Homo sapiens: one gene and its partners. The protein of the gene in region 1 interacts with the protein of each later gene in a biochemical or structural test. Each region holds a gene or a part of one and is shown in the gene's direction. Other genes may lie near its edges.

The links.
Region 2: the proteins of ZAP70 (region 1) and SH3BP2 form a complex in vitro, tested with the Homo sapiens proteins (one study listed by BioGRID).
Region 3: of the proteins of ZAP70 (region 1) and THEMIS, one has a biochemical effect on the other in vitro, tested with the Homo sapiens proteins (one study listed by IntAct).

Annotation. Positions count from the first base shown.
Region 1 is NC_000002.12:97,723,524-97,727,270, forward strand, and holds part of ZAP70 (tyrosine-protein kinase ZAP-70), read left to right. Parts: intron 1-492; 5' UTR 493-513; coding exon 514-915; intron 916-1,568; coding exon 1,569-1,729; intron 1,730-3,747. UniProt on the Homo sapiens protein: Tyrosine kinase that plays an essential role in regulation of the adaptive immune response. Regulates motility, adhesion and cytokine expression of mature T-cells, as well as thymocyte development.
Region 2 is NC_000004.12:2,830,938-2,834,684, forward strand, and holds part of SH3BP2 (SH3 domain-binding protein 2), read left to right. Parts: intron 1-633; coding exon 634-742; intron 743-985; coding exon 986-1,041; intron 1,042-1,393; coding exon 1,394-1,475; intron 1,476-2,052; coding exon 2,053-2,112; intron 2,113-2,759; coding exon 2,760-2,897; 3' UTR 2,898-3,747. UniProt on the Homo sapiens protein: Binds differentially to the SH3 domains of certain proteins of signal transduction pathways. Binds to phosphatidylinositols; linking the hemopoietic tyrosine kinase fes to the cytoplasmic membrane in a phosphorylation dependent mechanism.
Region 3 is NC_000006.12:127,899,366-127,903,112, reverse strand, and holds the start of THEMIS (protein THEMIS), read left to right. Parts: upstream 1-2,054; 5' UTR 2,055-2,180; coding exon 2,181-2,271; intron 2,272-3,747.

The DNA of each region.
Region 1 (3,747 bases):
TCTCTTAATGTCACTCCACTTATTTCCTTTGTAATGCTGACCTCAATCTGTAATTATTATTTTTGTTTCTTTCTCAGTTTATCTCACGGCTCTCCCTCCTTAGAGTGTTGCCTTCGGGAGGACGGGGTGGGACCGCGCCTGCCTCAAGCGTGCATATCCCCAGCACCGGGCCTGAAACACAATAATTCAGCACGTGGTTGGGACATGAAGAGATGGGTACAGGTGTGGGTGCTTGGGGACCAGTTGGCGTGCTTGGGCGTCCACATAATGTCTCTGGAAAGTCAGATGGGGGTTTGGGACTTCTCGATCTGTGCCCAGCAGGCTGCGGCTTCTCTCCAGGTTGACTCTGGCACAGAGCAGGCTCTGCCCCCTTGGCGAGCTCAGTCTGCGGCACTGATGCCCTCCACTTGGCGTCTCTCGCGCCGTCTTTGGGCCCAACGCACCAGGTTCAGGAAGGCCCTGACGTGCCTCCGACCCTCTGTGAACCCGCAGGTTTCGGGAGGCCCAGGGGCGATGCCAGACCCCGCGGCGCACCTGCCCTTCTTCTACGGCAGCATCTCGCGTGCCGAGGCCGAGGAGCACCTGAAGCTGGCGGGCATGGCGGACGGGCTCTTCCTGCTGCGCCAGTGCCTGCGCTCGCTGGGCGGCTATGTGCTGTCGCTCGTGCACGATGTGCGCTTCCACCACTTTCCCATCGAGCGCCAGCTCAACGGCACCTACGCCATTGCCGGCGGCAAAGCGCACTGTGGACCGGCAGAGCTCTGCGAGTTCTACTCGCGCGACCCCGACGGGCTGCCCTGCAACCTGCGCAAGCCGTGCAACCGGCCGTCGGGCCTCGAGCCGCAGCCGGGGGTCTTCGACTGCCTGCGAGACGCCATGGTGCGTGACTACGTGCGCCAGACGTGGAAGCTGGAGGTGAGAGCGCAGCCTGGGGCGCGGGGTCTGGAGGGGCGTGGCCGAAGAGGGGCAGTCGAGGGTTTTGGGGGGATAGGAGGGAGGAAAAGGTCGTCTTCCCCATTCAGTCCCCTTTGGAAGCTGGAGAGGTGGGGCACTGGTTGGGGAAGAACCTGAAAGGAGGCCTCAGAGGCAGGGGCTCCGTGGTGGCGGTCGCCTTCCGCAGGCTGAGCGATGCTATGGTGCTCTACTATGCCAGATGGGAAGGTAGAGGGACGCACTGGGCCGGGCGAAGGCGAGGCTTGGAATGGGGGCGGGGCTGAGAGGAGGGTGCGCGGGGCTAGGGTGAGCCCTTAGGGTAGGGTGGCTGTTGGGGAAGATGGGCAGTAGTCGTCCACAGCCTGAGTGACACCACCATGCACAACTACCTGAATTAGGTCTTCAAGCTGGAGATGCGCTTGGGGCCGCGCTGGAAGGTGGGGGTGGTTCCTCCCTAGCTGGATTGGGGAGGGGACCACGGAGATGGCGCGGAGGTAGTCCTCGAAAACCTGCCTAACACGCGCTAGGGACGCCTGGGTGGGGTGGGGAGTCCTCTGGGACAGGGCTCCCGGAAGGGGGTTCCTGTGGCGAGCACTTGGCCACACCTACAGACCTCCTCGCCTCTCCTTTTCTAGGGCGAGGCCCTGGAGCAGGCCATCATCAGCCAGGCCCCGCAGGTGGAGAAGCTCATTGCTACGACGGCCCACGAGCGGATGCCCTGGTACCACAGCAGCCTGACGCGTGAGGAGGCCGAGCGCAAACTTTACTCTGGGGCGCAGACCGACGGCAAGTTCCTGTATGTGGGGCCCGGGATTTGGGTGCGGTGAGGATTGGGGCTCGTTGGCAGGGATCCTGGGGACTGGGGCAGACGTGAGTGTGCAGTTGGGCCGTAAGGGTGTCCCTGTGCTCACATGTGCAAGTGGGTTGTGTGTTTCTGATGTGCAAAGGGACTTGCACATGGGGAAGTAGAGGTAGTGACTAGGAAAGCCTCCAGACTCGGTCCCTTGGCCTGGCTTGGAATCCCGCTTCCGCCACCTGCTGGCTGTGGCCCTTGGGCAAGTAGCGGACTGTGGTTGCCTGCCTCAGTTTCCCCTCCTTCAATCAACAAATATTTACTGAATACCTACTGTGTACCAGGCACTGAGCACACGGCAGTGAGCCAAAAAGACACAGTGCCTGTCCTCATGGGGCAGGTAGACAAGAAAAGGAATCAATAAAATAGAGACCCTGTCAGATGGTGGTAAGCGCCGTGTGTGCAGGTGGGGAGGCGGTTGCAATTTTAGATTAGGTGGTCAGAAGAGGCCTTCCTGAGAAGGTGACTTCTGAGGAAGGGAAAGAAGCTGAGGAGTGAGCTGTGCAGCTTTCAGGGGGAAGGGTGTTCCTGGAAAATGCAATGGCAAGTGCAAAGATCAGGAGGCAGGAGTCTATTTGGCGTGTTCCAGAAACATTGTGGAGGCCATGTGCCTGGAGCTGAGTAAGTGAGGGGGAGAATGGGAGGAGGTGAGGGCAGGGCGGGGACTTTAGCTTTTCCCCCAAGTGAGGTGGGATCCCCGGGAGAGTGTTGAAGCAGCCCCCTCTAACTGTCCTGTGGTTGACAGCAGTACCTCCCCTCAGGATCCTCTATGAGGATTACATGAATTAATACGTGTGAATCGAGAGTATGGTAACTGACATAGGAAAAATGCGGTAAATGTTAGCTTTTATATGTGGGTGAACGTGCGTGTCTGAGCCACAGCTGAGGCCATGTAGCTATTTGTGAGTTTGTTAATGTGAAAAAAATCTCTGAAAATCTCTTTTTAAAACTCTGCTGAGTGTTTGACAGCCCTGCTGGGGCTGTTGCTCTCTGGTTTGGACACGGGATCTTTTCTGTAACAGATGGTATCCAGGTGCAGCTGAGGTCACTCAGGCCTCAAGACACAGATAAATTGGTGCTGCCTCTTTCCCATGACCTCAGGAAGCCCAGTGTTTTCCCCCAAGAAATCTGTGGGGACAATTCTTGGGCCTTCCTTCTCGTGAGTGCTTCTTGGCCTGAGCCCCTGCCCAGCAGATCCCTTGGGTCATCTGCCTCCCCCAGGGCTGTTTCCTCTCCTGAGGTCAACCCACTTGGAGGAAATGACCACATCCCTTGATTTTCCTCACCCATGTGAAGTTTCTGTAGATTGCCTGCAGGCCTCTTGCAAGATGCAGCTCCCTCTCCAAGATTCTGTTGTGGGCTGATAAAATAACTCTTTTCACCCTACCATACAGATTCAGATTTAGGCTGTAAATTGGAGTGGAGTTTCCAAGGCTTCTGAGGGAGCTCTTAGATACATGTTGCACGTAATACTCAGTTGCCGGCACAACTTCTGAACAGGACAGGGCTGTTTTCTCTAAGAGGAAACCTTTGCATTTGTATCAGTTAGCTTTTGCTACATAACAAGCAGCCCTAAGATTTATTGGCTCAAAATGACAGTTTATTGCTCTTCATGATTCTGTGAGCTAACTAAGCAGTTCTGGTTTGGGTCATCTAGGCTGGGCCTGAATAGGCTGGGATGGCCACACTCACATGACTGGCCATTGGCTCAGTGTCACCTGGGTGATGGGGATGAGCTGGCCCAGTGCAGCCATCATCCAGCAAGCTAGCTGAAGCTTGTTTGTGTGGTGGTGGTGCAGGGTTCCCAAGATCAGTCAGAGAGGACAGGGCAAGTTCAAGCCTTTGTTTGTGTAATGTCACTGATGTCCTAATGGACAAAGCAAGTCATACGACCAAAACCAAAGTCACTGTAGGGAAGGGATTCCTTAAGGGAGAGGAATGCAGGGAGCCATTTTTGCAAA
Region 2 (3,747 bases), on another chromosome or scaffold:
CTGAGCAGCCCTTGTCACACTCGTGGTTCTAGTTCACCAAGGGCTGCAGAGATGCAGATGTTCGGAAGTCACGTTTTTCCATGACTGTGGGGATAGCGGTTCCAGGGCTCAGCCTCACCCACAGGCTGGCCTCCCATGCTGGCGTGGCCCGTTAATCCTCCCTAGAGCCTTTGAGGCTTTGCTGAGCAGGACCGGCTAGCCACACAGGGAGGCGTGCAGGGACGCCATGGGCGTCCTTTGGGGTCACACTGCATTGTTCATCCAGTTCACGTCCACTCCCCTGTGGCTCTGAGTGGGCTGTGATTTGGCCATGACCGGACCTCCCCTCCCCACGAGCATCCAGAGCACTTGTTGACGGTGTGATGACACTGAGCTTGGGAACCCTGGACTCCCTTGCCAGCATCCATGGCAGCCCTGACCCCTGACTCCGGTGTCGGGCGATTCCTGCTGTCCCAGGGCAGTCGGCACGAGCCCTACCCGGATCTCTGTTGTCCTGAGCTTTTTAGGGTCACAGGGGCCATAGCAGGCAGCTTGCCGTCCTCACACAGAGGGTGGAGTGGGGAGGGGAGCAGAGGGTGGCCGCCCCGTGTCTGACAGTGAAATGGTCCTGCCTTCCTCTCCCTGCCCCTCCAGGCGATCACCCCCCGATGGGCAGAGTTTCAGGAGCTTCTCCTTTGAAAAGCCCCGGCAACCCTCACAGGCTGACACTGGCGGGGACGACTCGGACGAGGACTATGAGAAGGCAAGGCTGAGCGGCAAGCCTGGGTCCCAGTGGCCAGTAGGTGGACAGGTGGTGGGAAAGCCATAGGCCAGGGCGGCCCCTCACAGACCGTCCTGAGCAAGGACCCCCCGAGAACCCGGGAGCCTAGGGGGACACAGCACCATGTAAAGCCCCGGATCCCGGCACCGGGTGGCCACCGTCCGGGGAGTGGTGGTGCGGGTGGATCACTCCGACGTTGGCACTGACACCGTCAGCCTCTTGCAGGTGCCACTGCCCAACTCGGTCTTCGTCAACACCACGGAGTCCTGCGAAGTGGAAAGGTCAGCACAAAGCCCTGTGTGTGCTGGGTCCTCCGCCATGCCCGGCTTCCTGCTTCTGTGTCCCTCTCACTAGCTTCCGTGTTGGGGAGTTGCTGGCACAAGTTCATGGCCCTGCGTGCAGCAGAAACCAGAGGAGTGGACCTCCCTGCTCTGTCCCATGCCCAGCTGGCACCCTGGCTGGCCAGGGCTCTGCTGGGCTGCTTCTGTCAGCCTCACGGCAGCCCGACGTGCTCAGCTCCTGAGACCTACAACAGCGAGAGGACAGAAAGCCAGGCTTGGGAGCGGGGCGGGAAGGTCCGTGTGAAAGCTGCCCGAGGAGGACTCACCCGCTAATATGACTGTCTTATTTTAGGTTGTTCAAGGCTACAAGCCCCCGGGGAGAGCCCCAGGATGGACTCTACTGCATCCGGAACTCCTCTACCAAGTCGGGGAAGGTAGGCGCCAGGGGAAGATGCCCCAGGGCCCCTCTGGCTCTCCACACACCCAGGCTGTGGGTGGGCCCAGGACTCCACAGTTCCTAAACCACTCCCCTTGTGGACTCTTACTTGGTGTCTCAGCTGAATTCTCTTCCCAGCAGCACCCCCCAATCTATTCCCTAATAGATCTCCATCTGCAAATTGGGGGCCATGATGGCCACCTCCCAGTGGGGGCCAGGACTCGGGTGGGGTAGGGCTCATGCTCTGGGGTGGCGGAGGCCACATGGGGCAGGGGAACGCCAGGTCTGCCCGTGTCCCTCCGAGCGTGAAGTTGTGACCTCACTGAGCCATGCTCTCCCGGGTGTGTCGGAGTGGTTATTGGTGGTTATGAGCTGTTGCTCATCAGAGGCTCTCTGAGGGCTGCCAGTGTCGCCCCCGCTGTCCTTGTGCAGGTGGTCTGGAGTCCCTCCCCGCCCCCCGAGGGCCACAGGACCCAGCCTTGATGGTTCTGCCCCCCTATCCCCAGCCCATGGTCTCCCGAGGCTGGTCCCGCTGTTTCTCAGGGAGCCGTCAGCCTCCCGCTTCCGTCCTGTAGGTCCTGGTTGTGTGGGACGAAACCTCTAACAAAGTGAGGAACTATCGCATTTTTGAGAAGGTGAGAGGGCTCTGAGTGGGACGGGGACCCTGGCCGCATGGCCTGGCAAGGGGCAGGGCAGAATCTCCCTGATGAGGCATAGGCAGCGGGTAGACTGAGACTGGCACCTCCAGGATACCGCCCTCCCCTTCCCCTCCACCATCGCTCACCCCCCACCCCTCCTGCTCAGCCTCCCTCCTCTCGTGGCCTACCTTTGTCCTCCACTGACCCTAGTGGGGATGGGCGGTCAGCCATAGACCCTGGGTTGCTTGTCTTGTCTTTTTCTTTTTGCGGGGACAGGGGTCTCACTGTCTTTCTCAGGCTGGTTTCAAATTCTGGGGCTCAAGCAATCCTCCCACCTCGGCCTCCCACAGTGCTGGGATTACAGGCGTGGGCCACCGTGCCTGGCCTAGGTTCATTTCCTGACCTTGTCTGAAGTGCTCTGGGTGCAGGCTCCTGGACATGGAGGACGGAGGGGAAGTGAGGTGGGAACATGGAGAGCACAGGCCTGATGCGGAGGCCACCTTGGGGGCACCACCGACAGCCAGGGGCCAGCCTGGTGATGCCGCTGTTGATGCTGCTGCCTTGTTTTACAGACGGGGAGACTGAGGCCTAGAGCCGCAGAGTGGCCTGGCCCTGCTGACGCTCCCCCTTCTCTTCCCCCACAGGACTCTAAGTTCTACCTGGAGGGCGAGGTCCTGTTTGTGAGTGTGGGCAGCATGGTGGAGCACTACCACACCCACGTGCTGCCCAGCCACCAGAGCCTGCTGCTGCGGCACCCCTACGGCTACACTGGGCCTAGGTGATGGCAGTCCATGTGGCTGCCAGGCCAAGGCAGTCACAGGGGCCCTGACCCCAGGCCACACAGACGGACATGGGCCCACATGGGAGGGTGAGCAGGAGCAAGGCTGTGCTTGCCTAGGGCCTCTGTGATGGACATCTCGTAGGACCCAGCCAGTCTCATCCAGCAGGTTGGGTTCTAGGGCTGAACCAGGCGCCAGGCTCCAGAGGACGAAGGGACTCTGTTGCCCCACACTAACTTGCCCTGTCCCAATCCCAGAAACCCAGGACCAAGCTGTGCCTGGGCTCCAAGGACAGGAACACTGGTCCCCCCATCACACTCACCCCTAAGTGGGCTGGGAGCCAGGCAGGGCCAGGGCAGCTGGGTGGGGGCCGGGGCTGGCCCTGGGACCCCCAGGAACGCTAAGACACAGGCTCCAGTAGGGGCTGTTGCCTCCAATAAAGCAGCAGTGAGCTTTGCCTTGGTGGCTGGGGCTTGATTGGGAAGGAGGGGATTACCAGCTTACTGGGTGCCCATGCTGATGTCTAAGTGGTGACCGCAGCAGTACCCGGGAACCCCAACAGTTGGTTGTCTTGTCTTCCAGGGTGCAGGTCACTGAGTGACTTCCCCAGGGTGCACAGCGAGTAACAGATCAGGACCCAAACTTGGGCAGTCTGGGCTGGGAGCCCACACCCCACTCACCAGTTCTGCTGCCTCAGGTCAGGCCAGGGCAGTGCTGCTGCAGAGCTAGAAGGCCCTGCAGCTACAGCTGCTTCATTCCCTGCATTAGTGCCTGGTTACTGGGTACCTCCTGAGTGGCTGTCCCCGTTCCAGAACTTGCATACACTGAGCGGGCTACAGAGCTAGAAGGCCCT
Region 3 (3,747 bases), on another chromosome or scaffold:
GATTCTAAGCCTTCCGGCTTGGGAAACTAAGAGAATAGCAGTGTCATTAATTAAGACTGAGAATACGAAGATGATTATCACAGAGAGAGCGTCATCTGTCGCGAGAGCAGAAGCAGATGGAGCCTAGGTAATTGTAAGAGATTGGTGATACGAAATGGCTGTTTGGCTAGTAGGATAGAAATTTGACTTGGGAATATTAAAAAAATAAGTGATATCCAGCTTGCATTAGATATCAAATGAAATGTATTGTGGCATCAGTTCTAACGGATTCATAATTTTTAAGGAGCAGTCCACAGAAGCCTCTTTCATGTATTCATCCACATGAAATACACTACTAGGCTGTAAACTGTGGGGAGGGGTATGGAAGGCAGACAGATCAAGGGTAGGACATTTTTGGACAAAAAAGTTGCCAGTGAGGAATTTGAATCTAATGATAGTAAACCTGTTGATGTGGTCAATCGTAAATTCTACTTTTATAAAGAAAGAAATGAAGCTGGACTGATTATTGAAAATGTCAAATAGGATTACAAAGAGTTGAAACAGTTTTATAAGCTCCATATCAAAACTAGGCAGTTTTTATCTTTCTAGGTCATTTACATGATGGCCATGGTAGAACTGAGATGTCCCCTGACCCTCTGTATGTGGCTATGCTCTCTGCAGCCTAAGGCCAAAACAGTTAATAGATAAGTGCCTGGGTTTGGTTACTAAAGAAAACGTGTAGATTCCTGTCATCTTTCAAGTGTATACATACCAACCAGTATTCTTTATTTTTTTTTTTTTTTTTTTTTGAGACAGAGTCTTGCTGTGTCATTCAGCCTGGAATGCAGTGGCATGTTCACAACTCACTGTAGCCTCAAACTCCAGGGCTCAAGTGATCCTCCTTCCTCAGCCTCCTCACAGCTGGGACTACAGGCATGTGCCACCATGCCTGGCTAATTTTTTAATTTTTTTGTAGAGACAAAGTCTCACTATGTTGCCCAGGCTGGTTTTGAATTCTTGGGCTCAAGCAATTCTCCTACCTCAGCCTCCTAAAGTGCTGGGACTACAGGTATGAGCCACCGTACCCAGCCTCAACCAATATTCTTCTACTTTACCTTAAAGAGACTTAGGAACTACCACCTTTAATTGTATATATTTTAAATATTGTTTCAGTTACATGCAAAAAATAGAGAGGGGCAGGATTTTGAAGAGATCAATGTTCATGAGTTTTCTCCTGCTTCCTTTGGTGCTGATCATTTCCCCTCCTAAATTTCAACAATAAGATCAGAATTGTGGAATTGTGAACTTGGAAGAAATTATAAAATTTATTGGACTCTTCTACTTCATCTCCATTTAGTAAATAAAACAAATGAAAATCAGAGAAGACAAGGCTGACGTTAGCCTGTAAATCAAAAGCAGAACTAAACCCAGAAAATGCAGGTTTCCTGACAAGTAATTTTAATACTTTCTACTATAGTGTAGAGATTAGAAAACTCATTTTAATGTACTTTGTTAATTTACTGTATCATTTTGCATATTCTATCCCTACCCTACCCTCCTTTAAGATTCAGCAAAATTTTTAATGTGGAAGAATAAAAAGTGGTTTCAATACTCTCTCCAGAGTATAGTATCAGAATTCTAAAAAGAGCTGACGCAAAGCACTTTTATTACCAATTTTAATGTAAAGGCACTGACAGTATGCAAATAAGGCACAAAGCCAAGCTTTAGAAATGAACTAGAGAGATAATGAATTCACATGGTGCCATTTTTAAGATTAGACTTTAGTCCTATATTCCTGTTCTTTGTTGGTGGGCAAGCCACAAGCAACTCTGACCTCAGTTTTGCTACCATAGTAGATGCACACCTGGATTAACAAAGGACAGAATGCGCTACTTAGCACGTCTCATTTTTTGGGCAGTGTCTGTTCACCCCACCCCCATCCTGTTCAACTTCAATGTCAGAAGGAAATGAAGCCACAATGTGAACAAAAAGAGCTATAACATTTTTTGTCTCCTGCTTCCCCCCTCCCTCTTCATTGTCCTCCCCACATAGAGCTACTCCACCCCACTCTGGCTGTAGTGTGACATTCCTGCCTGCCTGAGGAAGAAATGGTGAGCAGGGGCTGCAATTGCAGACAAGTGTCACCCAGAAGCCACAAGTTTCTGTGAGCACCAGGTCTACAAACTACCCAAGGCATAGCAATGGCATTATCACTGGAAGAATTCGTCCACTCCCTTGACCTCAGGACCCTACCCAGGGTTCTAGAAATCCAGGCAGGCATCTATCTTGAAGGTAAGCACTCTCCAATACCTTTACTGGCTAGAACATTCTTGTAAAGTATACATTTTTGAAAATTGGAGGGGGGGAATTTTAACAGCAAATATGTGAGTTCTGGTAAAGGAAAGGCGATCACAAAAGAAAGTAATGAACTGACCAACGAATCGTCAAAAGCCAATGGTGTTGGAGAGGGGAGAAACTAGACAGGACTCTGGGACAGACAGAAATAAGGAATTGAGTGAAGCTTCTTGAGCTTTCTGTAGGCCTTGAATGGTGAACTATTTCTGCCTTTGCTTTGAAATTGGTTGTAATCAAGAATAATAAATTTAGTTATCAATATTTATGTTTCCACAATATAAAAAATAAAATTTAGCTTGCTAAAACAAAAGCAACTATCAAAGGCACAGTGTTTAGAAAGAAGTATTTCCAAATATTTCCCAAACTTTTAGCTCCTAAATGTTGCTTATACCAATGTTTTTCTCACTCTGTAGTGGCCTAACTCCAAATTCCTTAAATAATGAAAATTTTAATTTGAAGGTATAGAAATTATTGCTACAAGATAATTTTTAAAAATTGATGTTGAAACTCAGAGTTCAATTAAACTTATTGAATAATAAGATAGTGAGTTTTGGTGTAACTCACTATGTTAATTCAGGTGAAAGAACATTATAACCTCCAATATACAACCTAGAATCTTTACATGGTTAGTTTGAATACATAGAATACAATTAATAATTCTGTAGGTGTATTTCTGGCCTCAAGAGTGGTAGAATTGAAGCAGTTGTAGAAACAGATCAAGACAAAACTACCAGGAAAATAACTTAACTGTTGGTAGGCAGGTCTTTCTTGTTCGTAGACAAAATAATGTATTACATATTATGTTGCAAAGTAAAAGAAAGATTAACACGTCAGCTCCAGTTTTTATATATATTATATATATATATATATATATAAAATATACACACACATACTTGCAGGTGATGAATTGATATGGGCTGTTATCAGCTTAGTGTACAGTTTTATTTAACTAATTTGTAAGTTGATTTTTGGAATCAGACTATGTTTTGCCGTGTATAATCATATTATCAATGTCTCTATTTCTAAGCCAGCCCCAAATCATTTTTTGTCTCATGGTTTGTGTTTTTTAGGCTTTACGTAAAAAGTCTTTCTTTATGTCTACTTTAAAAAGATATTTTCCTATGTTGTTTTTATCAACTTTACGGTTTCATATTTTGCATTTAGTTTTTAGTCTATTTGGAGGACAATGTTATGAATTGTACAGGGATCCAATTTTAGTTTTCTCTATACAGTTCACCTGATTTCCAGGTACCATTTGCTAAGCTGACAATCTTTCCGCCATTGATTTTTGTTGCCTCCTTCAAATCATATTATATGTTCACCTCTGTATCAGTCTGTCTCTAAAATATCTCTTCTATTCCATTAGTTTATTTTTTTTCTTAGCTGCCCCCAAACACACTATTTTTGTAACTA